Linked DNA regions of Homo sapiens. The protein of the gene in region 1 purifies or fractionates together with the protein of each later gene. This does not show direct contact. Each region holds a gene or a part of one and is shown in the gene's direction. Other genes may lie near its edges.

Evidence for each region.
Region 2: the proteins of ITM2A (region 1) and SLC67A1 purify together in Homo sapiens (affinity purification with mass spectrometry; one large-scale study listed by BioGRID and IntAct). This does not show direct contact.
Region 3: the proteins of ITM2A (region 1) and SPG7 purify together in Homo sapiens (affinity purification with mass spectrometry; one large-scale study listed by BioGRID and IntAct). This does not show direct contact.
Region 4: the proteins of ITM2A (region 1) and ATP7B purify together in Homo sapiens (affinity purification with mass spectrometry; 2 studies listed by BioGRID and IntAct, with this or other methods). This does not show direct contact.
Region 5: the proteins of ITM2A (region 1) and DNAJC16 purify together in Homo sapiens (affinity purification with mass spectrometry; 2 studies listed by BioGRID and IntAct, with this or other methods). This does not show direct contact.
Region 6: the proteins of ITM2A (region 1) and NDUFB5 purify together in Homo sapiens (affinity purification with mass spectrometry; 2 studies listed by BioGRID and IntAct, with this or other methods). This does not show direct contact.

What each region holds. Positions count from the first base shown.
Region 1 is NC_000023.11:79,359,884-79,362,109, reverse strand, and holds the end of ITM2A (integral membrane protein 2A), read left to right. Parts: intron 1-630; coding exon 631-781; intron 782-932; coding exon 933-1,021; 3' UTR 1,022-1,726; downstream 1,727-2,226.
Region 2 is NC_000011.10:2,922,379-2,927,444, forward strand, and holds the end of SLC67A1 (solute carrier family 67 member A1), read left to right. Parts: intron 1-57; coding exon 58-178; intron 179-2,631; coding exon 2,632-2,819; 3' UTR 2,820-2,868; downstream 2,869-5,066. UniProt on the Homo sapiens protein: May act as a transporter of organic cations based on a proton efflux antiport mechanism. May play a role in the transport of chloroquine and quinidine-related compounds in kidney. Plays a role in the regulation of lipid metabolism.
Region 3 is NC_000016.10:89,514,162-89,519,492, forward strand, and holds part of SPG7 (mitochondrial inner membrane m-AAA protease component paraplegin isoform 1 precursor), read left to right. Parts: intron 1-5,331. UniProt on the Homo sapiens protein: Catalytic component of the m-AAA protease, a protease that plays a key role in proteostasis of inner mitochondrial membrane proteins, and which is essential for axonal and neuron development.
Region 4 is NC_000013.11:51,941,550-51,945,953, reverse strand, and holds part of ATP7B (copper-transporting ATPase 2), read left to right. Parts: intron 1-1,662; coding exon 1,663-1,845; intron 1,846-3,399; coding exon 3,400-3,568; intron 3,569-4,404. UniProt on the Homo sapiens protein: Copper ion transmembrane transporter involved in the export of copper out of the cells. It is involved in copper homeostasis in the liver, where it ensures the efflux of copper from hepatocytes into the bile in response to copper overload.
Region 5 is NC_000001.11:15,557,025-15,562,355, forward strand, and holds part of DNAJC16 (dnaJ homolog subfamily C member 16 isoform 1 precursor), read left to right. Parts: intron 1-2,501; coding exon 2,502-2,632; intron 2,633-5,117; coding exon 5,118-5,301; intron 5,302-5,331. UniProt on the Homo sapiens protein: Plays an important role in regulating the size of autophagosomes during the formation process.
Region 6 is NC_000003.12:179,613,731-179,619,061, forward strand, and holds part of NDUFB5 (NADH dehydrogenase [ubiquinone] 1 beta subcomplex subunit 5, mitochondrial isoform 1 precursor), read left to right. Parts: intron 1-1,044; exon of another isoform or gene 1,045-1,148; intron 1,149-1,240; coding exon 1,241-1,329; intron 1,330-2,252; coding exon 2,253-2,319; intron 2,320-3,252; coding exon 3,253-3,314; intron 3,315-4,684; coding exon 4,685-4,791; intron 4,792-5,331.

The sequences.
Region 1 (2,226 bases):
TGCTGTGGTGATTTCTCAGACCTAGACAGAAATACTATTAGACCCAGCAATCGCATTACTGGGTGTATGCCCAAAGAAATATAAATAATTTTATTATAAAGACACATGCACAAGTATGTTCATTGCAGCAATATTTATAATAGCAAAGACATGGTATCAGCCTAAATGTCCATCAATGATAGAGTGGATAAAGAAAATGCGATACATACACACCATGGTATAGTATGCAGCCAAAAAAAAAAAAAAATCACAAAAAAAAAACAAGATCATGTCCTTTGCAGAGACATGGATAAAGCTGGAGGCCATTATCCTTACAAACTAACACAGCAACAGAAAACCAAATACCGTATGTTCTCACTTAAGTGAGAGCCAAATGCAAAGAACACATGGTCACATAGAGGGGAATAACACACACTGGGGCCTTTCAGAGGGTGGAAGATGGGGGAAGGGACAGGATCAGGAAAAATAACCAGTAGGTACTAGGCTTAATACCTGGGTGATTAAATAATCTCTACAACAAACCCCATGACACAACTTTACTTAAGTAACAAACTTGCACTTTTACTCCTGAACTTCAAAGTTAAAAAGGAAAAAGAATTTCTCATTTCAATCTTTGCTTTTGATTTTTAGAGTGGCAGATATCTGCCTCAAACTTATGTGGTTCGAGAAGACCTAGTTGCTGTGGAGGAAATTCGTGATGTTAGTAACCTTGGCATCTTTATTTACCAACTTTGCAATAACAGAAAGTCCTTCCGCCTTCGTCGCAGAGACCTCTTGCTGGGTAAGTAACTAATGTATTCCTTCCTTCACCCTGTGTTACACAGTGGAAGAAAGTGGAGGTAGAATACAGGAAAAAGTGGGGAACAAGTCTGGATATATTTTCATTTCCACAAAAATTTCAAAAGCCACTTTTTTTGCACATTTCCTTACAGGTTTCAACAAACGTGCCATTGATAAATGCTGGAAGATTAGACACTTCCCCAACGAATTTATTGTTGAGACCAAGATCTGTCAAGAGTAAGAGGCAACAGATAGAGTGTCCTTGGTAATAAGAAGTCAGAGATTTACAATATGACTTTAACATTAAGGTTTATGGGATACTCAAGATATTTACTCATGCATTTACTCTATTGCTTATGCTTTAAAAAAAGGAAAAAAAAAAACTACTAACCACTGCAAGCTCTTGTCAAATTTTAGTTTAATTGGCATTGCTTGTTTTTTGAAACTGAAATTACATGAGTTTCATTTTTTCTTTGAATTTATAGGGTTTAGATTTCTGAAAGCAGCATGAATATATCACCTAACATCCTGACAATAAATTCCATCCGTTGTTTTTTTTGTTTGTTTGTTTTTTCTTTTCCTTTAAGTAAGCTCTTTATTCATCTTATGGTGGAGCAATTTTAAAATTTGAAATATTTTAAATTGTTTTTGAACTTTTTGTGTAAAATATATCAGATCTCAACATTGTTGGTTTCTTTTGTTTTTCATTTTGTACAACTTTCTTGAATTTAGAAATTACATCTTTGCAGTTCTGTTAGGTGCTCTGTAATTAACCTGACTTATATGTGAACAATTTTCATGAGACAGTCATTTTTAACTAATGCAGTGATTCTTTCTCACTACTATCTGTATTGTGGAATGCACAAAATTGTGTAGGTGCTGAATGCTGTAAGGAGTTTAGGTTGTATGAATTCTACAACCCTATAATAAATTTTACTCTATACAACCACTGTTTCTTTTATTTCATCACTTGAGATATAGTCAATGTGAATAATTAATATTACTTATTTAGCTTTTGGTGTACCTGTAACAGATCTAAAATTATGAGGCCAACTTTGCCCCCATTCCCACCTACACATATTTATATGTTATATTTTCATATTTCACTCCCTTTTGACAGTATATTAATTACTCTTTTATAAACATCCCATAATTGGCTTATCATGTAAATTCAACTATTTATTTAGAGGCTTCAGGCGCATAGCACTTTAAAATCTTTTGAAGTGTTTTCTTTCTCATCAAATTAAACAACTATACACAGCTATAATGGATCACTAAGGACTAACCTTGGATAAGATGTTGATAGCTTTTAAGAACTTCAAATGCTGTGATCATTACTCATGTATCTAAGAGTCTAAACTTCATACCAAGGGGACATGAGTACTATAAACTATTTCCCTTGTATTAGGTGAAAAATCGCTCCTGATATCCCTTATTACCTGCTGG
Region 2 (5,066 bases), on another chromosome or scaffold:
AGAGGAGCCTGGTCCCGTGAGGCCCCCACTCAGCTCGGCCCCCGCCTGCCGTCCCAGGCCTGGATGTCCAGCGTCTTCCACTTCTGCCTCCTGGTGCCCGGCCTGGTGTTCAGCCTCTGCACCCTCAACGTGGTCACCGACAGCATGCTGATCAAGGCTGTCTCCACCTCGGACACAGGTGAGTGTGGCCAGCGAGTGGAGCAGCCTCCTCCAGGAAGCCCTAGGAGCTACCCGGTGGGGATGGGGTGGGCAGCCTAGGGTCTGTGTGGGGTGGGTAGGGTGGGGGGCCTGGGGTCTGTGTGGGTTGAGTGGAGTGGGTGGGGTGGGGGCTTGGGGTCTGTGTGGGATGAGTAAGGTGGGGAGCCTGGGTCTTGCATGAGACTCCTGCCCTACCACCTAGCCCAGCTGGGGGCAGGCCAGGGGCCTGGGAGGGGGCTGCCCGCAGGTGGCAGTTGGCTTGGCCCTGAGAAGCACCTGAGGACTTTGCCTGCCAGGCCTGGAGGCCCCGGGGACTTCTGGGCCCTCCCCCAGCACGGGGAGTGGGGCACACAAGTGCTCAGGAGCTTCCTGAATGAATGAGGGAGTGAATGAATGCATACCAGTAATTAAATCCAGGAATCCCCTAGGCCACTGCAGGGGACACAGGTCCCCTAGACATAGATTCCCCCAGTCCCCACTTCCGACCCAGCTTTCTTTCTTGAGGCCGAAGAGAGCCGCTCATGCAGACTGGGGGTGTCCTGGGCCCGATGTTATCCAGGCTCCTGCCCCACCCCAGGCACAGTGTGGGTACACACTGGCCAGTGCAGGGGGCTCCTGTGGGCTGGTTGAGGTCAAAGGACTCAGGAGTCCTTTGGAGTACTGGAGATTCTTCCAGGCCTCCCCAGCAGCAGATCCAGAAAGCTCAGGGCACACATCTGACACTCCATCCACCTGCCTGTCTGGGAGGCAGCAGATCCAGAAACTCAGGGCACACATCTGACACTCCATCCACCTGCCTGTCTGGGAGGCAGCAGATCCAGAAACTCAGGGCACACATCTGACACTCCATCCACCTGCCTGTCTGGGAGGCAGCAGATCCAGAAACTCAGGGCACACATCTGACACTCCATCCACCTGCCTGTCTGGGAGGCAGCAGACCAAGGTCTAGAGGCCCGGATGTGGCCGGGCTGCAAAGGGCAGGCCTATTCTCAGGGCTGCCTGGGAACCTCCAAGGCCTTCGGGGACTGTGACTCCATGGTGCATGGGCTGATGCAGGCTGAGCCAGGAGGGCTTCCTGGAGGAGGTTGGGCAGCACTTTGGAGAGGCCAGGAGGATGGCACAGGAGAGGAAGGCCTGGGGAGATGAGGACCCGGCCTGGCTGGGAAGAGGCCCCTGGAGGCTGAGGGAGACCAGGCCCAGGCCATTGGGCCACGTCATGCGCAGACACCACCCCTGGCCTGGTAGGAGCCAGCATCTGGTTCCCAGCAGCAGCTTGGAAACCCAGCGACAGAAGGGGCAGGAACTGCACCCTGAGTCTGCAGAAGAGGCTGCTCTTAATGGTCCTCCATGCTGGGCCCTGAGCCCAGGTGGGGCCTGGCCAGCTCCTCATCACAGCTGACCAGCCCTGGGAGTTCCAACTCCAGGAGACCTGGGCTCTGAAGTCCCTGGAGCCAGAGACCCTCTGGGCACGGGACCAGAGGCAGTGTCCTCCCACCTGGAGTCCTGGGGGGTCCTCCCGCTTGGCGAGTGCTGCCCCCCTTGTTGCCCGAGTGTTGACAACAGCCACAGATAGTGCCCACGTGCCCGTCCATGCTGCGGGTAGCTGGCCACAGGGGCGTGGAGATGCGGTGTCAGGGACAGAGCAGGCTGCTGCGCAGGTCGGGGCTGTCTGGGGAGCCTCGGAAGCCGCTCGGTCTTGCTCTGGGGACAGGAGGGGCAGGTGGAGGGGCCCTGCATGGGCTTCCAAAGCCCCTCCCAGCCCTGTGAGGGGGAGTTCCATGGAGTAGTAGGAGCTCCGCAGGGTGGGGCGGCTGGAGGAAGGGCTGATGGCCAGGAGGGGCCGTGGGATGGGGGTGTCATGCCCACTCTGAACTCAAGCCCCAACGGTGTCTCACAGGCCAGGCTTAGCCTCCCCACTGCATCACCAGCCCTCGGTGGTGGCAGGCACCCTGGGAAAGAGCCGTGAGAGCCAGCTCCCTGACAGCCTGGGCGGGAGGTTCCGGGCCCCAGGCACAGATGCCATCTCCCTTGGCAGGCCTGGCAGGGCGGGGCCTTCTGCGGTGACCTGTGGTCCCATTCCCAGGCTCCTCCTGTGCTTGGAAACTTTCTGGAGCAGGGAAGAGACTCAGCCCAATGCCCTGGGAAGCACCCTGCATGGCTGAGAGGTCCTCGGGGAACAGACCAGTGGGTAGAGAGAGCTGTGTTTGCTCCAAAGGCTGGGCGGGTGGCAGGGGGTGGGGGACTGGAGGTTAGAAGCTGGCAGGTGGAAAGGATGGGTGTTCAGGGGAGTATTTCACCAGACTATGCAAGGTGCGGACTGCGCCGTGAGGTCAGGGTGGGTCAGGAGAGATGGGAGGCCATGGCTGTGTTCAGGAAGTGGGCAGTTGGCCCAGGGAGCTGCCCAGGGCCTGACTACCCCCATGCACCCCCCAGGGACCATGCTGGGCCTCTGCGCCTCTGTACAACCACTGCTCCGAACTCTGGGACCCACGGTCGGCGGCCTCCTGTACCGCAGCTTTGGCGTCCCCGTCTTCGGCCACGTGCAGGTTGCTATCAATACCCTTGTCCTCCTGGTCCTCTGGAGGAAACCTATGCCCCAGAGGAAGGACAAAGTCCGGTGACCGCTGCCCAGACACAGACTGGCAATAAACTCCTACTAAATCCCTCCGACCTCTTCCGGCCTGGTTTCTGCAGGCTCACGCATGGTCTGCCTGCGTCCTTCAGTGAGGGATGGGGCCTCGGGCTGGAGGGCTTCCTCAAGGAGGGCGCCTACAGCTGGGCAAAGCTCTGGGGAGGACAGAACCACCCAAATTGGTTCACTGTTATTAGTACAGCCCTGAGTCCGCCCATGGAGGAGGTCCCCCTGCTGCCACACAAACAGCTCTTGCTCACATCCCAAGCAATGGCGAGCTCACTGCCCAACTCCCGCCCACAGTGTGCCTGCCCAAGAGCAGAAACAGGTTGCTTTAAAAGATCAGGGAACCTGGCTGGGCGCAGTGGCTCACGCCTGTAATCCCAGTACTTTGGGAGGCCGAGGCGGGAGGATCATGAGGTCAAGAGATCGAGACCATCCTGGCCAACATGGTGAAACCCCGGCTCTTCTAAAAATATTTTTTAAAAAATTAGCTGGGTGAGGTGGTGCACGCCTATAGTCCCAGCTACTCGGGAGGCTGAGGCAGGAGAATCGCTTGAACCCGGGAGGCGGAGGTTGCAGTGAGCCAAGATCCCATCATTGCATTCCAGCCTGGCAACAGAGCGAGACTCCATCTCAAAAAAAAAAAAAAGATCAGGGAACTGAGGCCTTCCTAGATGGAAGGAAAAATGCCCTCATTCTGCTGAACAGTCCAGCACACAGACCCAAACCCTGGTCGCAGAACTGTACCAAGGAGGCTGCCAGCCACCCGAACCCCAGAACCGCACCAGACACTGCCAGCCACCCGAACCCCAGAACCGCACCAGACACTGCCAGCCACCCGAACCCCAGAACCGCACCAGACACTGCCAGCCACCCGAACCCCAGAACCGCACCAGACAGTGCCAGCCACCCGAACCCCAGAACCGCACCAGACACTGCCAGCCACCCGAACCCCAGAACCGCACCAGACAGTGCCAGCCACCCGAACCCCAGAACCGCACCAGACACTGCCAGCCACCCGAACCCCAGAACCGCACCAGACACTGCCAGCCACCCGAACCCCAGAACCGCACCAGACACTGCCAGCCACCCGAACCCCAGAACCGTACCAGACACTGCCAGCCACCCGAACCCCAGAACCGTACCAGACACTGCCAGCCACCCGAACCCCAGAACCGTACCAGACACTGCCAGCCACCCGAATCCCAGAACTGCACCAGACACTGCCAGCCACCCGAACCCCAGAACCGCACCAGACACTGCCAGCCACATGAACCCCAGAACTCCTCTGGTGTCCCCTTATCTCAGCCTCTTCATCCTACAGCTCAGTGGCCCCCAACATTTTCCGCACCAGGGACCAGTTTTATGGAAGGCAATTTTTCCACGGATGTGGGTGGGCCAGATGAAACTGTTTCACCCCAGATCATCTGGTATTAGATTCTCATGGGGAGTGCTCAACCTTGATCCCTCTTGTGCACAGTTCACAACAAGGTTCTCGTCCCTGTGAGAATCTACTGCTGCCGCTGATCTGGCGAGAGGTGGAATTCAGGCGGTCATGCTTGCCCCGCTGCTCACCTCCTGCTGTGCGGCCCAGCTACTAACAGGCTATGGACCAGTACCCATCCATGGCCTGGGAACTGGGGGTCCCTTCTATAGCTGATTTGCTGGCCAGGCCATGTACCGTTGCCTTCCCAGCCTCCTGACCACAGCACTTCCCGACCCCTCACCCCCACCCCCTGGTCCTGGGCTCTGGGGAGGAGAACTGGGCATGAGGAGGCCAGCCCAGCCGCTGTGACCGATTGACCCATCTGGAGAGGACAGGCTTTCCACAGCCTCAGCGAGGGTCTGCAGCTGCCCCTGAGACCATGAAGGCCGCCCCTCCTCTCCTCGGGCTGCTTTTAAAAGAAGCTGTTGAAACATGGACTCCCCAAACCTTAGAATTCCACTGTCCTCAGAATTTGAGGAATTCCAAAATTCCTCAAACAAGAAGTGGCCTCAGTGAGCCAAGGGCCATCCACCCTCTTCGCCTAAAGCTCAGGCCGGATCATGCCTATGCTTGAAGCACCCAGGGGCAAGGGCTCTCCTCTTGACCTTGGATATCCATCCAGGTGAGGCTCTGGTGGGCCAGCCAGGAGGCCCAGGAGCCCAGCCAGGCAGCGTCCTTGGCTGCTGTTTTCTGCTTTTTGCAGGAGCCCCTCCCCGATCTGCACAGGGGCTTCACAAATTGCGTTCG
Region 3 (5,331 bases), on another chromosome or scaffold:
GTTGGTTTTACGGTAAGTGTCAATGCTTACAGCCACTCAGAACTATCTTCTAAAAGACTTCTGAATCTTCATACAAAATTGTTCTGAATTGATTTCAGGGCTCTTTCCCTGTATACTTCAACATTTCAATAAAGTGTGTCCTTTGACTTTTTTTTTTTTTTTTTTTTTTTTTTTTTTTTGCCAGAATCTCACTCTGTTGCCCCGGCTGGAGTGCAGTGGTGCGATCTCAGCTCAATGCAACCTCCCCCTCCCGGGTTCAAGCAATTCTCCTGCCTCAGCCTCCGAAGTAGCTGGGATTACAGGTGCTCACCACCACACCCTGCTAATTTTTTGTTTTTTGTTCGTTTGTTTGTTTTTGAGACGGAGTCTCGCTCTGTCGCCCAGGCTGGAGTGCAGTGGCACAATCTCGGCTCACTGCAAGCTCCACTTCCTGGGTTCATGCCATTCTCCTGCCTCAGCCTCCCTAGTAGCTGGGACTACAGGCACCCGCCACCGCACCCGGCTAATTTTTTTGTTTTATTAGAGACTGGGTTTCACCATGTTAGCCAGGATGGTCTCGATCTCCTGACCTTGTGATCTGCTCACCTTGGCCTCCCAAAGTTCTAGGATTACAGGCGTGAGCCACCGCGTCAGGCCCTCTTTTTGTATAGTAGAGATGAGGTTTTGTCTTGTTGGCCAGGCTGGTCTCAAACTCCTGACCTCAGGTGATTCACCCACCTTGGCCTCCCAAAGTGCTGAGATTACAGGTGTGAACCACCGTGCCTGGCCTTGACCTTTTTTTTTTTTTTTTTTTGAGACGGAGTCTCGCTCTGTCGCCTGGGCTGGAGTGCAGTGGTGTGATCTCAGCTCACTGCAAGCTCCGTCTCCCAGGTTCACGCCATTCTCCTGCCTTAGCCTCCCGAGTAGCTGGGACTACAGGTGCCCGCCACCATACCCGGCTCATTTTTTGTATTTTTAGTAGAGACTCGGTTTCACCGTGTTAGCCAGGATGGTCTCAATCTCCTGACCTCGTGATCTGCGTGCCTCAGCCTCCCAAAGTGCTGGGATTACAGGAGTGGGCCACCGCACCCAGCCCTGGACCTTTTTTTTTTTTAACTTTTATTTTGTATTTATTTATTTATTTTTGAAACGGAGTCTCGCTCTGTTGCCCAGACTGGAGTCCAGTGGTGCGATGTCGGCTCAGTGCAACCCCTGCCTCCTGAGTTCAAGCGATTCTCCTGCCTCAGCCTCCTGAGTAGCTGGGATTACAGGCATGCACCACCATGCCCAGCTAATTTTTGTATTTTCAGTAGATACAGGGTTTTGCCATGTTGGCCAGACTGGTCTTGAACTCCTGACCTCGTGATCTCCCCACTTCGGCCTCCCAAAGTGCTGGGATTACAGGTGTGAGCCACCACGCCCGGCTGACCTTTTTATAAAAAAAAATTTGCTGGGTAGGTGCGGTGGCTCACACCTGTAATCTGAGCACTTTGGGAGGCCAAGGTGGGATGATCACTTGAGCCCAGGAGTTTAAGACCCTCATTTCTATTATTATTATTACTATTATTATTATTATTTTTTTTTTTGAGATGGGGTCTCGCTCTGTCGCCAGGCTAGAGTGCAATGGCACGATCTCGGCTCACTGCAACCTCTGCTTCCTGGGTTCAGGCGATTCTCCTGCCTCAGCCTCTCGAGTAGCTGGGACTACAGGCGTGCGCCACCACGCCCAGCTAATTTTTTGTATTTTTAGCAGAGACAGGGTTTCACCATGTTGGCAAGGATGGTCTCAAACTCCCGATGTCAGGCGATCTGCCCATCTTGGCCTTCCAAAGTGCTGGGATTACAGGTGTGAGCCACCGTGCCCAGCCTGGAGTTTCACTCTTGTTTCCCAGGCTAGAGTGCAATGGCGTAATTTCAGATCACTGGAACCTCTGCCTCCTGGGTTCCAGTGATTCTCCTGCCTCAACCTCACGAATAGCTGGGATCACAGGCATGCAACACCAAGCCCAGCTAATTTTTGTAGTTTTGGTAGAGACCTGGTTTGGCCACGTTGGTCAGGCTAGTCTCAAACTTCTCACCTCAGGTGATCCACTCGCCTTGGTCTCCGAAAGTGCTGGGATTACAGGTGTGAGCCACCACGCCCGGCCGTTCGTTTTTTTAATAAAAGAAGAAAGTTAGATCACTTGGGGCCAGGAGTTCGAGACCAGCCTGGCTAACATGGTGAAACCCCTTGTCTACTAAAAATACCAAAAAAAAAAAAAATTAGCCAGGTGTGGTGTACGTGCTTGTAATCCCAGCTACTCCGGAGTCTGAGGCGTGAGCATCGTTTGAACCTGGTAGGCAGAGGTTGCAGGGAGCTGAGATTGTGCCATTGCACTTCAGCCTGGATAATAGAGTGAGACCTTTCTGTCTCAAACATAAAAAATTAAGAAAGAAAAGGCCGGGCGTGGTGGCTCATGCCTGTCATCCCAGCACTTTGGGAGGCCAAGGCGAGCAGATCACAAGGTCAGGAGATCGAGACCATTTTAGCTAACACGGTGAAACCCTGTCTCTACTAAAAATACAAAAAAAAAAAAAAATTAGGCGTGGTGGTGGGCACCTGTAACCCCAGCTAGTCGGGAGGCTGAGGCAGGAGAATGGCGTGAACCCAAGAGGCGAAGCTTGCAGTGAGCCGAGATCGCGCCACTGCACTCCAGCCTGGGCGACACAGCAAGACTCTGTCTCAAAAAAAAAAATTAAGAAAGAAAAAAGCGACGGCGAGACTCTTGTCTCAAAAAAAAAGAAAAAAGAAAAAAGTCGTAAGAGAAAATATATTTCCTATTTATGCAGTGGAAGCGGATCACCATAAAGAGCTTCATCCTCATGGCCTTCACCTTGAGTGGGCTGAGGAGGAGGACGAGGGGCTGGTCTTGTTGTCTTGGGTAGCAGGGGTGGAAGAAAATCCACGTGTCCGTGATCATACATAGCTCACTCCTGTGTTGCTGAAGGGTCACCTGTCATAGAAGAGGGAAGAATTGTGTGGCCTGTGCGGATTCTGCATTCAGCCTTGTGTGTTGTGTTACGGTTAACCAGGGACGTGTGCCCCACTAATAACTCTGATTCCTGGAAGGAATGGCATGGCAGCCTCCGTTGTCATGGTTCCTGGAGGGAATGGCATGGCAGCCTCCGTTGTCATGGTTCCTGGAAGGAATGGCATGGCAGCCTCCGTTGTCATGGTTCCTGGAAGGAATGGCATGGCAGCCTCCGTTGCCATGGCAAGGCAAAGCCATGGCAGCTTCCTGGTTATCACTCCTGGCATGTGGTAGGTGCTTGTCCAGTGAAATCCTAGTCGTTGCTGCATTGGCAGGTGCCCTGGCGTGAGGAAGGGCAGGCAGTCACCATGCCCTTTGCTCTCCTGGGCCCTGCATCTGCTTATGGATGAGGCTGCGTGTAGCTGACATGCGTGTCTCTCCTGCATCTGAGTAATTGTCGTCGTCTTTTTTTTTTTTTTTTTTTTGAGATGGAGCTTCGCTCTTGTTGCCGAAGTTGGAGTGCAATGCCACGATCTCGGCTCATTGCAAACTCCACCTCGTGGGTTCAAGCAGTTCTCCTGCCTCAGCCTCCCGAGTAACTGGGACTAAAGGTGCCCGCAACCATGCCCGGCTAATTTTTTGTGTTTTTAGTAGAGACGGAGTTTCACCATGTGAGCTAGGATGATCTCGATCTCCTGACGTTGTGGTCTGCCCACCTCGGCCTCCCAAAGTGCTGGGATTATAGGCGTGAGCCACCACGCCCGGCCAAGTGATTGTTTTATGTTTATTCTGTTTTGGGTTGAACTATAGTTTGCTTGGAGAAAATAATGTCTGTTAAATTTGCGTTAGAGGATAATTGTTTACTGAGCCAAATAATCTTTCTTGTGAGAACCTATTCTGGGTTTCCCCTGGGCCCTCTGCTGTGGTTTCGGCGGGAGTTGGTTTGTGTGGATTTTCAGGACTGCTGACTTGATCAGACAGGCACAACACAGTCCCGGCCCTCAGGCAGGCCTTCTCCCTGGTCTGATGCTGAACTGCATGGCGTCTGTTCAGATGAAGATTCTTTTGCCACCTCCTTAAATGAAAGAACGATACTGAATGTGGCTTAGAAACAGCTTTGCCAGCCGTGCAGAATGATTGTAAGTAGTGGTTGCCCGAAAAGTATTTGCTTGGAATACCACTCACTGATAACACTGGTGAACCTGGAAGGAATTATACGGAGTGAAAAAAGGCACCACTCACTGATAACACGAATGAACCTGGAAGGAATTATACGGAGTGAAAAAAGGCTCCGCTCACTGATAACGCGGGTGAACCTGGAAGGAATTACACGGAGTGAAAAAAGACCCTGCTCACTGGTAAGGCGGGTGAACCCAGAAGGAATTACACAGAGTGGAAAAAAGACTCCGCTCACTGATAACGCGGGTGAACCCAGAAGGAATTACACGGAGTGGAAAAAAGGCCCCGCTCACTGATAACGCGGGTGAACCCAGAAGGAATTATACGGAGTGAAAAAAGGCCGAGCTGAAAGATCACATGCCGTATGATTTTTTTTTTATACAGCATTCTCTAAAGACAAAAATTAAAGAGATGGAACACAGATTCGTGGTTGCTAGGGGTTAAGGATGGGGGAAGGAGACAGCCGGAGGGAGCCTGTGGTTGGATTGCCTCAGCTGCGGTGGGCACACACTGCGCGTGTGTCATGGGATGACCCCGGGGAGCTTGGTGGACCGTCGTGGTGGGAGAGCCTGGCTGTGATACTGTTCATAGTTTTGTGAGATGGAACCCCTGGAAGCAGGGGGACAAGGTATTGCTCTGCGTCATTTATTTTTATTTATTTATTTTTTTTTGAGATGGGGTCTGGCTCTGTCACCCAGGATGGAGTGCAGTGGCTCGATCTCTGCTCACTGCAACCTCCACCTCCCGGGTTCAAGCGATTCTCCTGCCTCAGCCTCCTGAGTAGCTGGGATTACAGGCGCGTGCCACCACACCCAGCTAATTTTGTTTGTTTTTAGTAGAGATGGGGTTTCAGTATGTTGGTCAGGCTGGTCTCGAACTCCTGACCTCATCATCTGCCTGCCTCGGTCCCCACAAAGTGCTGGGATTACAGGTGTGAGCCACTGCGCCCAGCCTGCTCTGTGCCATTTCTTACAACTACATGTGAAGGTACAGTTACTTCACGGTTGCTAACTAGAACTAGAAAACTAGAAAAAAAGCAGTTGCTAACATTTTTTTTTTCTTTTTTTGAGACGGAATTTCGCTCTTGTTGCCCAGCCTGGAGTGCAGTGGCGCGATCTCAGCTCACCGCAACCTCCGCCTCCCGGGTTCAAGCCATTCTGTT
Region 4 (4,404 bases), on another chromosome or scaffold:
GGATTCACACCCAGGTAGCCAGGCTTCAGGACAAAAGCCCCACCGTGACATCTGTGGGATTAGTGGTGGGTCCTGTGACCCTGGGGAGTGAAGAGTGAGTGACGGTGTTTGTGAAGAGTCTTCCTTTTGCCCAACTTACTAACCTCTGGCCTTCCACACTTTCACCTATTTAATCAGTATTTGCTGGGCACTCACTGCGTGTGAGCCCTGCACTGGGTTCTGGCGATGGTCATGGTTTCCAGCCGCCAAGGAGCCCACCAGGGGGAAAGACAGACAGTGAAAAAGTAAATAGCAAAGCTGACTGAGTATTACGAGATACTGAGTATTGACTGGTGGTGCTTGACGTCCTGGGGACACTTGAACAGGGGCCAATCCTAGACTTGGGGTGCTCGACTCAGGGACAAGGGTGCTGCAGGTGGTCAGGGAAGCGAATACGAACGTTCATCTGAGACCTTACTGTTGAGTGAGAGCTGGACAACGGAGCTGGGGAAGAGTGTTCCAAAATGGGGACAGAAGGTGGAAAGCACCTGTGGAGGTGGAACTTCCCCTCCCCGCGGTATCCCCAGCATCTAACCTGAGACATCAAGTGCATTCAGAAGTTATCTGTTGAATGAGCAAATGAGGAACTGGAAGAAAATCATTGAGAGAGAGGAACCAGAGATGAGGCCGTTGAGGGAGGGGCCAGAATCCAAAGGCTGAAGATTTAGTAAAGTGTTCTGAACGTTAGCCTAGAAGCCACGTAGGGGATGGCATACCCACGTGATGTGACTGGATCGTGTGTTGGGAAGATCATTCCGGCTGCAGTGTTAAGGTTGCGCTGAAAGCTGGCAAGAATCCCTGGAGGAAGATGAGTTAAGTGTGTTGAAGGAAGGAAGGCCACCGCTCAGCATCAGAAACAAAAAGCTGAATTATTGTTTGCTTGTAAGGGAGAACCCTGCTTGTGGGACATGGTCTGAGAAGAGCAACCTGCTGGCCTTAAATGGGTAAAATTATACACTTCAGGAATTACTGGACTTTCAGAAGCAGGGCTCAGGGCTCGACTGGCCCTGGTCATGGAAGTGCAGGTACCTGAATGTAGCTGCTGCCCATATCTGAGCCCAGAGGTGTGGGGACTCTGCAGACTGCCATTGACTAAGTGTGACCAACTTAAAACTGGCTCTGGGGGTTTGTTTGTCATTATGGCCATAGAATAGTCCTTTCCTTTCTTGAACTCAGAGTGTGAGGACTCTATTCCCAGTAGCTTTTGCACTTAGGCAGGCAAAAGGAAGCTGAGGTTGGGCTCGGCGGATGGCAGTGGACAGGGAGGCAGGTGTCCCTCAGGGTCCTGACTCCTGACCTGATGTGGGGGAGTATGTGGATGGTGTCACTGTCTGGGGGACAGTGCTGTGCCATCTCCTGTACAGCCGACTGAGGGTTTCTGGCTTTGCCTGGTCAAGGTCAAGCCTCAGTGTGGCTGGTTTGACTGGACACATAGGGAAACAGTTTCTTTGCAGTGGGAGTTGTTGAACCCTGAGATTGAACGACAGAGGATCACGTTAGGAAGCTGTGCAGGTGTCTTGTTTCCTGTCTGAGGCAGGTTGGGTGAAGTTCTGCCTCAGGAGTGTGACTATGGAAGCCCCTCCATCTGTATTGTGGTCAGTGAGTTGTGGTTGTTTTTGGCAGATAAAGACTGTGATGTTTGACAAGACTGGCACCATTACCCATGGCGTCCCCAGGGTCATGCGGGTGCTCCTGCTGGGGGATGTGGCCACACTGCCCCTCAGGAAGGTTCTGGCTGTGGTGGGGACTGCGGAGGCCAGCAGTGAACACCCCTTGGGCGTGGCAGTCACCAAATACTGTAAAGAGGTACGTGGACTTGGGCGTGGCCCTGCCCTCCCCGCCAATGCTCTTTTATTCCTCACCATGTCCTTCTCTCCTAGCTGCCCTCGAGGAGCCTTCTCTGTGTGGTCTGGAAAACCACTTAGAGGGCCCTTCTGCAGCAGGCGGAGATATAGGGCTCACAGTCAGCCCTTGCCACAGTTCCAGGTTATCACAAAGGGAGTTCAGTGTCACAGGCATTTGCTGAACATCACCAGGCGCCAGGCTCAGGAGAACAACAGGAGTGGGATATGAACTCTACCCTTTGGGAGCTCACGGTCTTGGGGAGTACGGGCAGTCTGGAAACTCAGTGCTTTGACAGTGCTTAGTGCAAGGGGACACAAACATGAAATGGGAGTACTGGGGTGGAAGGGAGAAATCTACTCCCCTGGGAGCACCTGGGACAGAGAGGAACCAGCAGAGGTGAGCCAGAGTGCCCAGCAGGTTCCTGGCACTTCGTGGAGAAGCATTGCCTTCTTTTGGTCTCTCCACAGGAAAGGTTCTATTTTGTTTTCTCTTAATTTCAGTCTGAATATAGGGGCAGCAGAACGCGTCACACAGAATATTGCCCTGACAACTTTTAAACAGCCTGAGCAATACTGTTAGCAGTAAATGTAGAAAGGTGACATCATTGCCTTGAAAAACAATTGACAACTCTTCCTGATCAGGGGCTCTTCCAGAAACCTCATTTCTAGTTTTGTCCTTCATGTAGGGTCAGACAGCCCACTCTTTCTCACCTCACCCTTCTGACATTTCAGGGAGAATCTTGCTCACCCTCAGTCATCCTTTATTTGTTGTGTGGTCTGGAAAACCGCTTAGAAGGGTCCTCTGCAGCAAGTGGAGATGAGGGGCTCACAGTCAGCCCTTGCCACAGTTCTAGGTTGTCATAAAGTGAGGTCGGTGTCACAGCCATTTGCTGAACATCACCAGGCGTCAGGCTCAGGAGAACAACAGAAGTGGGATGTGAACTCTACCCTTTGGGAGCTCACAGCCTGGGGGAGGACGGGCAGTCCAGAAACCCCAGCCATTCCTTTACCCTGCCACCTTGTCCCCTCCTCCTCCAGGGTCTGATATACAGGCAGTTATCTCTTGATAGTCTCAAAGAGCTTTGTTAACACTACTTATTCCATTGTTTTTAATGAAATTATTTGCAACATAAAATTCACATCTCCCTCTCTTTGGCATCTGCAGTCCTCTTTAATTTGAGGTGTTTGATATGAGTTGCCTTTTTCCTTTCCAGTCGGTAACCTGTTCACTGTCATGAGGCACCCACCCAGGGAAGGATTTTAGGCTGTTTAAAATAGTCTCATTCAACTTACAGCTATAATATCTTTACCAAAGGAGGGAGAAATAATTACAAGTTACTAGTCACTATCTTAACCTTTCCTATCTGTTCCACCTCCCTCCCCTCCTTTCTCTCAGTTCCCGCTTTCCGCTGCTCTCTTGCCACCTTCACCCTGTGTCCCTGTCCTGCCTGCCCCTCCCTTTCACTTCACCCCTCTTGGCTTACAGTTTCCTCTTCCTCTCTTTCCACCTTCCCAGGAACTTGGAACAGAGACCTTGGGATACTGCACGGACTTCCAGGCAGTGCCAGGCTGTGGAATTGGGTGCAAAGTCAGCAACGTGGAAGGCATCCTGGCCCACAGTGAGCGCCCTTTGAGTGCACCGGCCAGTCACCTGAATGAGGCTGGCAGCCTTCCCGCAGAAAAAGGTATTGCTGGCTTTTGTCTCTGCAGCTGGTTAAAAGTAGAGGTGGGTCAAACCACAGAGAGCACCACGCCCAGCAGTGATTGCCTCTGCTGTGCGGCAGACGGTTCATGGCTAAGGCACCCAAGCCTGCCTCCCCACACCCAGGAAAGTTTCTCTTATGTTCTTGGGTGCGTCTAAATTTTGTTGCTTATGGCTGCCTTAAATTCATAGAGCATTGTTTAGCTGACCCATGATTTTGATTCTCCTCTTTCTTATCCCATATCGGTCTTGCTTCTCATAAGCTACAGAGTAGACAGACGGGAATTCCACTTTCGTTCTTCCTGTTTCCATTCTGTATGGTAGAATTCTGGTATTTACAAAGCAGGCAGAAAAAGTCAGGGAAAGCAGAGGGAAATGTCTGCCCAAGCCAGGAAGGGACACTGCTTGGAGGGACAGCTGCTTTTGAAGAATGGCCTTTTTTATTCTCAAGGTAGCTTGCCAGCCACCAGAATAAAGGGTGGAAAACACTCAAAATCTGTGACTAGTGTTTTTCCTAAGTGTTGGTAGTGAAATTGTGGCTTAGATTGTGTGGTTAGAAGCCATCCACCACCTTCCAGCCTTTAAAACCCCAGGATGGCCTTTCCATGAGAGCTTCCAGAGCCTGGCCGTTCAGTGACACCTCAGCTAGCAGCACACGCTGTTAGAAAGTGATAGGTGAGAGGTGCATTAGCCTCGGGAGTTACAGTTTTAAACATTTCATGTAGACGTGTCTGATTATTTGTTGATTCACCTGGGGTTGTTGATACCAAGCAGTAATGAATGTAGTCAACACTTGCTTTGTGTGCTGGGCAAATACCT
Region 5 (5,331 bases), on another chromosome or scaffold:
GAAATAAATCCAACAAGATTATGATTTCTATTATGCTTTCAATATATTGCTGGATTCCATTTGCTAACATTTTGCTTAGGACTTTGACATTCATGTTCAGAAATGAGATTGACTTCTAACTTTTCCTTATCGTGATACCCATGTGTTGCTTTTTCTCTTCTCAGGAAGACTTTATGTGAGATTGTCTTCCTTGAAAGTTTGATTGAAAGCATCTGTAATGCCATTTGGGCCTTGAGCTTGGGTTTCTGGGTTTCGCTTTAAGGAAAGATTTTTGACTACTGATTATTTAGGTTTTCTGTTTTAACTTCTGCATTGTAGGTAGTGATTCCTTCTTGTCATCTTTGAGAATGATTATTTTATGCCTTCTCTTTTGTTTTCATGGTTGGTTTTACCAGAGGCTTGTCGATTGTATTAGCTTTTTCAAAGAACCAGTTTTGTCTTTGTTAATTCTTCTTCTTATATTAATATATTCATTTCTTGTTTCATTAATTTCTATTTTTATCTGTATTATTTCCTTTCTACTTTTATATTTTTGCTGTTTTTGACTTGACAGATGTTTATTTCATTAACTTCTTTTCTATTATGTTAATTGTAAAATTCCCCTTCAAGTACTACTTTATATGTATCTCAGAGTTCTTATAAATAGTATTTTTCATCAGTCATTAAAGTTCAAAATATTTTCTAATATCTGATAGGCGTTCTTGTTTTGGTTTTTTTTTTTTCTTTTTTAGTCAGTCTTGCTCTGTCACCCAGGCTGGAGTGTAGTGATGTCATCATGGCTCACTGCAGCCTTGGCCTCCTATGCTCAAGTGATCCTCACCCTTCAACCTCCCAAGTAGCTGGGACTACAGGCACATGCCACCATGCCCAGCTAACAACTTTTTTTTTCCTTTTTTTTCTTTTATGAGACAGGGTTTCACTCCCGTTGCCCAGGCTGGTATGCTCTCCCAGCCTCAAGCAGTCCTCCTGCCTCAGCCTCCTGAGTAGCTGGGACTAAGGCCACGCCTGGCTAATTTTTGTACTTTTAGTAGAGACAGGGTTTCACTATGTTGCACAGGCTGGTCTTGAACTCCTGACCTCAAGTGATCCACCTGCCTTGACTTCCCAAAGTGCTGGGATTACAGGCATGAGCCACCATACCCAGCCCTTTTTTTTTTTTTTTTTTTTTTTTCTTGAGACAGGGTCTCAGTCTGTCACACAGGCTAGAGTCCAGTGGTGTGATCCTAGCTCACTGCAGTCTCTTAAGTCTTGGGCTCAAGCAGTCCTCCCACCTCCACCTCCCAGGTAGCTGGGATTGCAGGCATGCACCACCATCATGCCTGGCTAATGTTTTTTTATTTTTAGTAGAGACAAGATCTCATTATGTTGCCCAGGCTGGTCTCGATCTTCTAAGCTCAAGCAATCCTCCTGCTTCGGCCTCCCAAAGTTCGGGGATTATAGGAGTGAGCCACTGTGCCTGGCCTTTTGTTTGTTTGTTTTTAATTTTTTGTAGAGATGGGATCTCTCCATGTTGCACAGGCTGGTCTCTAACTCTTGGGTTCAAGGGATCCTCTTGCCTTGGCCTCCCAAAGCATTTGGGTTAGAGGAATGAGCCTCCATACCTGGCCGTGTTTCTTAATTTCCAAACATAAAGGGAAATGTTTACATTTCTGGTTTGCATTTTAAATGGAATTCTAGGTTAATTACCTTGTGGTCAGAATACCTGCTGTCAATGATTTCAATCCTTTGAAATGTGTGAAAGTTAGCAATAAAATGGTCACACGGTTTTGTAACCTGCCTTTTATACTTTGCAACATTGTTGCTTTGGGATTTATTTTTAATTGCCCAGTTCGCTACAAATCCTGAATGGAAATAATTTTGCCTAAAATTCAAAATGATTGACTTTTCGTTTTGGGTTTTTGTTTTGTTTTGTGTTTGGTTTTGTTTTGTTTTTGAGATGGAGTCTCGCTCTGTCGCCCAGGCTAAAGTGCAGTGGCGTGATCTCGGCTCACTGCAACCTCCGTCTCCCAGGTTCAACTGATTCTCTTGCCTCAGCCTTCCAAGTAGCTGGGACTACAGACACACGTCACCATGCCTGGCTAATTTCTGTATTTTTAGCAGAGACGGGGTTTCACTATGTTGGCCAGGCTGGTCTCAAACTCCTGACCTCGTGATCTACCCACCTCAGCCTCCCAAAGTTCTAGGATTTCAGATGTGAGCCACCACGTCCGGCCATGACTGACTTTTTTAATTTGTCAGCATAAAACAGTGAATAAAAATTCTCCAGTGGAAAGTGTACTTGATTTTCCCTTTGACCCGAAATAGCTGCATCATTGCTTTCAGCCCTGCATTGCTGAAATAGATCACCACATGTTTATTCGCTCAAACAGGTCTGTCTTGTTTGGTTATATTACTTTAGCCAAGGTCAGCTACGTTTTTATTAAGCTGGTAAGTAAAGAAAGCCCATCTATTTGCATTGAGAACACTGCATAAAATCTAGCTGATTCTTGGTTTTTCTCTAGGCCCGAGGTATGAAGAAGCAAATCATTGACGACTTCATCACCCGAAACAAATATCTATTGGCAGCCAGGCTCACCAGCCAGAAGTTGTTCCATGAACTCTGCCCTGTGAAACGGTCGCATCGACAGAGGAAGTAAGGACTTAAGGCTTTGCCTCTGCTTGTTATTACAATAGAAGGATCATGATTCATTTTACTATAGGGTGACTAGACATCTGCCCTGTAACATTGAGAACTTATTCTTCATTTAACAAATACTGGGCCGGGCATGGTGGCTCATGCCTGTAATCCCAGCACTTTGGGAGGCCGAGGAGGGCGGATCATCTGAGGTCCGGAGTTCAAGACCAGCCTGACCAACATGGAGAAACCCCATCTCTACTAAAAATACAAAATTAGCCGGGCATGGTGGCTTATGCCTGTAATCCCAGCTACTAGGGAGGCTGAGGCAGGAGAATCACTTGAACCTGGGAGGCAGAGGTTGCGGTGAGCCGAGATCATGCCATTGCACTCCAGCCTGGGCAACAAGAGTGAAACTCTGTCTCAAAAAAAAAAAAAAAAAAAACACTGATTAGTGACTGTGATGGTAATCATACTAATATGATGTATTAGTCCAGGGCACTTTAGCACCAAATTGTCAGATGTGCCAGCCTGTCCTAGTGGTCAGAGAAGATTTCCCTAAGATGTAACATTTCAGCTGAGACCTGAAGGATGAGCACAGTTTAGCCAGGCGTCTGGGATAGACTGGGTCACTTTACAGAAGCACAGAATATGGAAGAGTGACTGTCCCTACTAAAGCATTCCACACAGGGTGAGTCTTTGGAGGTCTTGGGAAGGAGCAAGGATAACAATTAAACAGTAGGGAAGTACAGAGTATTGAGGAAATGGATTGGTGGGAATCGGGAAGGCTAAGTTACATGTATTCAATAAAGTAGGAAGAGTTATTATACAAAGTATCTAAAAAGTCTAGAAATTCAGGGAATGTATTCATTACACCTTCTCAGGTGAATGAATCAGTAGCTTTAAATTTAGGGCTGTTTCATCTGTAAAAGGTATCTGGATATGGAAGGAAAACATATCAATCATGTAACTTGAAAATATAAAACATAATTTCCCTGTGTGTCTAGGCTTTTCAGATTCCTTTATAGTCTTAAGAGCGAAGAAAAAAATGACTTAAATATAAAAAAAGAATATCCTGGACTGTAAGGATTGTTGTTTACACAGCCTTCAAAAAATATCCCAAATCCACACACTTCTCACTTTTTTTAACCACTGCCACCCTGGAACAAGCCACCATCGTCTCCCAGCGAGACCCCCCTGGCAGCCTTCTAACTAGTCTCTCTGCTCCATTCCACTCTTGTACCCTCCAGGCAGATGTCCACACGTCAGCCAATAATGTTTGAAAATGCAAATCAGATCCAGTCACTCCCCATCCTGGGGTCTTTGCACTTGTAGTCTCTCTACCTGGGATGCTCTGACCCCATTTCCTGTCATAACAATGTCACCTTTTCAGTTGGCACTTCCCTGACCAACCTGTCTGATGGAGCCTGGCTTCTACCCACTCTGGCCTCTCTCTGTCCCCTTTTCATCTTTTTTTTTTTTTTTAATATATAGCACTTGTTGATACCTGTCATAATATATCTGTTTTCTGTCTTCCCCACTGGAATATAAGCTCCATGAGGGCAATAATATTGTCTATATTACCTGACATATACTAAGTGCTCAGTAAATATTTTTGGGAGAATGAATAGCTAAACTTTCCATTGGAACCTTGCAAAGGAAGCCGTTCAGAATGAGGCTCAGTGGCCTCTGGCCTGAGAGAGATTTGACCAGCCCTCCCTATACTGGAAGAACTAGGACAAATAGTTTCTAAAAGGCCCTGCCGGCCAGGAACAGTGGCTCACGCCTATAATCCCAGCACTTTGGGGGGCTGAGGCAGGCGGATCACTTGAGGTCAGGAGTTTGAGACCAGCCTGGCCAACATAGTGAAAACCCGTCTCTACTAAAAATACAAAAACTAGTTGGGTGAGGTGGTGCACGCCTATAATCCCAGCTACTTGGGAGGCTGAGGCAGGAGAATGGTTTGAACTCAGGAGGCGGAGTTACAGTGAGCCGAGATCACACCACTACACTCTCCAGCCTGGGCGACAGAGCAAGACTCCATCTCAAAAAATAAAATGAAAGGCCCTGCTGCATCAGAGATTCAGTGACCAACCCCTTAAATTCCTGGCAGGCACGATGGCTCATGCCAGTAATCCCAACACTTTGGGAGCCTGAGGTAGGAGGATTGTCTGAGGCCAGGAGTTCAAGACCAGCCTGGGCAATATAAACAAAACTATATATATATAGTTTTCATATATATAAAATTTCATATATATAAAATTTTAAAATTCGTAAATGTGGTAAAGAAGTTTGGTTTGGGAAAAACATCACAGATTGGGAAGAGAAACAGTTTGTTAATGACTTGGAAATCCTCCCTTAGTTGAAATGTCAGCTTTCACTGGGCACAGTGTATTCACTTCCATAAGATGAGCTCCTCGTCTTCTTCACCTTCACTTGCCATTATAGGTGCTGGCCCTGCCATCAGGGATTGGTTATAAAGTTTTGTCTTTTTGTTGTGCAGGTACTGTGTGGTTTTATTGACTGCTGAGACTACCAAGTTGAGCAAACCCTTTGAGGCTTTCCTGTCCTTTGCCCTGGCAAACACTCAAGACACAGTGAGATTTGTGCATGTCTACAGCAATCGGCAGCAGGAGTTTGCCGACACCTTACTACCAGACAGTGAGGCGTTTCAAGGGAAATCAGCGGTAAGCCACAGAGTCTCTCCTCATCCCAGG
Region 6 (5,331 bases), on another chromosome or scaffold:
CCAAACTCACTGCAAGCTGCTGCAGATGTTACCAAAATTAAGAAGATAGTTCCTGCTTTCAAGATATTTATACTTAAAAGTGGCAGCAGTAAACACAAATATACATGTCACAATAACGTACAGTAATTCAACAGTAGGAAAGATCTCGTGTGGTTGGGAAAAATGTTGGCATCTTGGAAGATAAGATGTTATCTGGGCCTAACATAGATTTCAGGAGAGGGGACAGCATTCCAGACATTAAACATGAACAAAAGATTCAGATCTTTCTGACATCTATTATGACTGAAATTCCTTTAATGGGAAATTAAAGTTTTTTATTCTACAGTGACTCACATGCAAAATATCCTTGAGAGTAGTTACACAGTGAAAAGATAGGAACCTTCAGTTTCTAAGTAACAGCTAGATCCTTTCCTGTTCCCAGTGGAAAGGGCTTGGAATGCCTCTAGTGATCCTTGCAGACCTTCAAGAGGAAGAATATAAAAAGAGGATCCAGAAGTGAAATTTTGCCTCAGTTTACTTCCAGCAAGGCTTGATTAAATTCTGTCAGGGGGAGACTTGAAGAGGATATTCTTAATCAGCAATGGTTTACCACGTGATTTTATCAAGATATTTTAGAGTGTGTAGTTTGATAACAAGTTCTAATTCCTGCTGGTGATTTGTTGAGTAAATACGGCTGGTCCTTTCCATCTATTTTGCAGCATAATAATACATATAATACAGATAATGTGTCATGTGAAATGGCATAATGGAATAATTTAAATTAAATGTATTTCTTTTGCAGCATTAGCAAATATTTGTTGCAGAGGAGACACAGATGAGCAGCTCATTAAGTACCTAACCTCCCTGCCTGCTATTGAAACAAATTAAAATGATTATTTAGATACTTTAACTTTGAATTAAAATGAGGAAAGTTATGCTTTAGAACAGTAGATCCATCTTTGTTTAAAGATACCCTATCTGACCTGGCCTTATTACTCAAATAAGACATTTTAAAATCTTAACTCATATTAAACATCTAAGAATGTATATTTTCTTTTTGTTTCATGTCAGATGGGTAATGTGCCTACCTCATAACAAGGTTTGAGGGAGGCACATCTCACACCTGAGTGTGAAAACCCAGTCATCCTGCTTATGAGCTACAAAAGGATCCTTGTATTTTTTTATAATCTGATTTTAACTCAGAATATAACAGTATACCCATATGAACCTTGTATAAAACAGGGTAATTCAATATTCCCAGCTCCTGTTCGACACAGTGGAGACCATGGGAAAAGACTATTTGTCATCAGACCTTCTAGATTCTATGACAGGCGTTTTTTGAAGTTATTGGTAAGTTTAAATTTTTTGTTGAATTAAAGTCTTTGCATGTAACAGGGAAAAAATTTTTGCCTCTTTAGAAAACATCTTTCATTTTATGAAATATTTTATTTTGTAAATTTATATTTCTTTCTGTAGAAGATACTGAGACTGTAAAGTCTGATTTGTTATTGAATTTCTCTTTAAATTAGTGAAGCTTTCCTTCTTCACAAAAGGATTTACACTAAATGGAGGTAAAACTTGAACCATTCCTTTCTTCTGAAGATTATGGCGTTTCGAAATAGAATCTGTGTTCCTATAACTAAAATATTCTTTAAATTACCAAAGAACTTGTTGAAAGACTTGCTTAAATAAAGGAGCTACATTATTTTGGGATATGATTTTATATTTATATGTTGTTCAGGAACATTTATTTCAGAGAGTAACAGGGATCTATAGTGCAATCTTAATTTAGCAATAATATAATTACATTGCTTATTTAGAATGCTGACTATATTTCTGTCTCAAGGCTCTATACGAACAAAGTAGAGGCTTAGAAAATGGGAGATTGTCTGGACCATCTGCCACGGTAGATAAAGCTCTGAATCATCATTTGAGTACTGACCTTAAAACTTTCTCTTGCCCTTCCGTTGTGTTTAATGACCTTTTTCATCTCCTTGGTTGAGCCCTTACTTTTCTTGTTATGACCAGCTCAAATCCTATTTAGTGGTAGAAATCACCCTGATGCTTTTAGACTTTTGTTCTTAACATATTATTTTCTTTCATGGCATTGCTTTACCAAAAAGTAAAATCACAGAAATCAATAATTTGGTACTGTATGCCCAATTTGGCAAGTTTATTTTATAAGAAATATGAGGAAATCATATCATGAGGATGATTTGTGTGTGGGGAGAGTTACGAAATGGTCATGAGAAACACTTTTTTTTTTATCTTAGAGATTCTACATTGCATTGACTGGGATTCCAGTAGCAATTTTCATAACTCTGGTGAATGTATTCATTGGTAAGTCACTTCCATCCCCTGCCAGCACCACCAGATTGGAAAAATTTTTAAACATATGTACATTAATATAAAAAAGAAATTATGGATATTGTAATGAAAAGCTCTTTAAATAATTAAGCATAAGCATGGCAGTTTATCTTAAAATAACCAAATCTCAATCTGAACTAAGAATTTTTTAATCCATCCTAGAACATATAAAACTATAATCCTCGGCCAGGCACAGTGGCTCACGCCTGTAATCCCAGCACTTTGGGAGGCCGAGGCGGGCAGATCATGAGGTCAGGGGTTCGAGACCAGCCTGGCTGACATAGTGAAACCCCGTCTCTACTAAAAATACAAAAAACTAGCTGGGCGTGGTGGCAGGCGCCTGTAATCCCAGCTACTCGGGAGGCTGAGGCAGGAGAATGGCTTGAACCCAGGAGGTGGAGGTTGCAGTGAGCTGAGATGGCGCCATCGCACTCCAGCCCGGGCAACAGAGTGAGACTCTGTCCCCCCCCCAAAAAAAAACTATAATCCTCTTACAAAGACTGAAAGTGTCAATGACAGTAAACATTAGATTTTCGTGGGAAATTTTGTTCAAAGTACTTCTAACACCTTGAATCCTAAAATGTTTTGTATCATAGGTATAGGGAAGACCAGAAGGAATAATATGTCTTTTATTATATCTTGTTACAGTATAGAAAAACAAAATGAGAAACTCATGGAATACCTATAAATAATGCCTTACACAGAGAGATGTCTAAAAATGTCTAACAAATGAATTGATTTTCAACCAGATTAAAGTGAATTAAAAATACTACATATCTTCATTGGTACAAATTTTTTAAAGAATCCTTTAAAACCACAAGAAGTTGGTTTCTTACTTTAATGGTGAATAATTAATTTTATAAACTCCTCATGCTAAAGTTAAACATAACCATTTTTTCTTATTAGGTCAAGCTGAACTAGCAGAAATTCCAGAAGGCTATGTCCCAGAACACTGGGAATATTATAAGGTTTGTATAGGACATTGACAATTACATACTGTTACATGCCTTGTCAACGCACTAGTTAATGTCTTAATTCAGCAATTATGATATAGTCAGGTTTTTTGTTTTGTTTTTTTTGAGACAGCATCTCGCTCTGTTGCCCAGGCTGGAGTGCAGTGGCGCGATTTCAGCTCACTGCAACTTCTGCCTCCCGCATTCAAGCGATTCTCATGCCTCAGTCTCCCACGTCGCTGGGATCACAGGTGTGTGCTGCCACTCCTGGCTAATTTTTGTATTTTTAGTAGAGACAGGATTTCACCATGTTGGCCAGGCTTTTCTGGAACTCCTGGCCTCAAGTGATCCACCCACCTCAGCCTCCCAAAGTCCTGGGATTAAATGTGTGAGCCACTGTGACCAGCCATGATAGAGTTTTATATTTCATTTTTTATATCAAGCAGATACATTTTTTTGCATACTTTTTATAAACAACGAATTTTGGTACTTCATTTTTAAAAAAATCATTTTAAGCTTTACAATTTTTTAAAGAATGATTGCAGTGTGTTCTCAGCCTAACAGAGTAACATAATTTATCCTAAGTTCAATGCCTTAGGAGAGACTTCACCAATGTTAATGCTAGCTGTCATTTATTGAGCACCTACTATGTAACAGGTACTGTGCTGAGTGTTTTACAAATATTTATTATTTCATCCCATGTAAAATGTACTATTATTATTCCCTCTTTGTAGATGAAGAAAGTGAGGCTAAAAGAGTTAAGTGACCTGTCTAGATGGGGTCACTATTTCAACCCGGGCAACTTTGACTCCAGAGCCTGAACTGTTGGTCATTATACCATACTGCCACTGCTACCAAAATCCAAAATTAATTTTGTTACTTGTTTTAACAAGTGTTATTGTGAGCCTTGAATGGAGTATATCCCATCATGTTTTATTATCTGAATGAATTATATTTTAAATACAAATCTTAAACCATTAAATCTTAAGGCAGACCTTACACTTAGTTTGTTTATGCTAACTGGTGCAAAGAGCTCCATTTTTGAATTACCAAAACCTGGGTTTGTCTTCTGAATCTGCCACCTAAGATACTCAGCATAGTGTAATGGAAAAGAGTACACAGCTTTGGAGTCAGACAGACCTGGTTTGAGTCCAGGTGCTGCCATTTATTAGCTACGTAACTTTGTGCAATTCACTTATCTTTAAAATGCGGACAAAAATAGTATCCACCTCATCTGTTAAAATTATTTTATATATAGGTATATTAGTTACATAGTAGATGTTACTGGTTTATCTAACTGAAATGATCATTTTAAAGAATAGTCAACTAGAAAAGCAAAGTATTATTCAGAAATGGACTAATATTAAACGAATTTTCTCTTGTAGCATCCCATATCAAGATGGATTGCCCGTAATTTCTATGATAGTCCTGAAAAGATATATGAAAGAACAATGGCCGTCCTTCAGATTGAAGCTGAAAAGGCTGAATTACGGTAGGAAAAACGAGGGGGTAGGTGGGAAAGAAAATCTTCCTAAGGTAGCAAACCACCAGAAAAAATTAATAAAACTATGAATATTTCAGCACTATAGGATACTTTATGTAAAAGGATAAAGATACGTCCAGATGCAGTGGCTCACACCTGTAATCCCAGCACTTTGGGAGGCTACAGAAATTAGCCGGGCGTGGTGGTACGTGCCTGTAATCCCAGCTACTCAAGAGGCTGAGGCAGAAGAATCACTTCAACCTAGGAGGCAGAGGTTGCAGTGAGCCAAGACCATGCCACTGCACTGCAGCCTGGGTGGCAGTGTGAGACTCCGTCTCCAAAGGAAAAAAAAAATGGATAAAGATAGAATTAGCTTGTTTGGAGTGAAAACTATAAACTGGTGACAAGGAGACTATTAGGAGATATGTGTCAGATTAAAGAGTTCTTTTTTAAATTTTTGAATTTTTTTTTAGAGTGGAAGTCTTGCTCTGTTGCCCCAGCTGGGAAGCAGATGGATGGGTATATCCATCCAGTGAAATATATAATGTG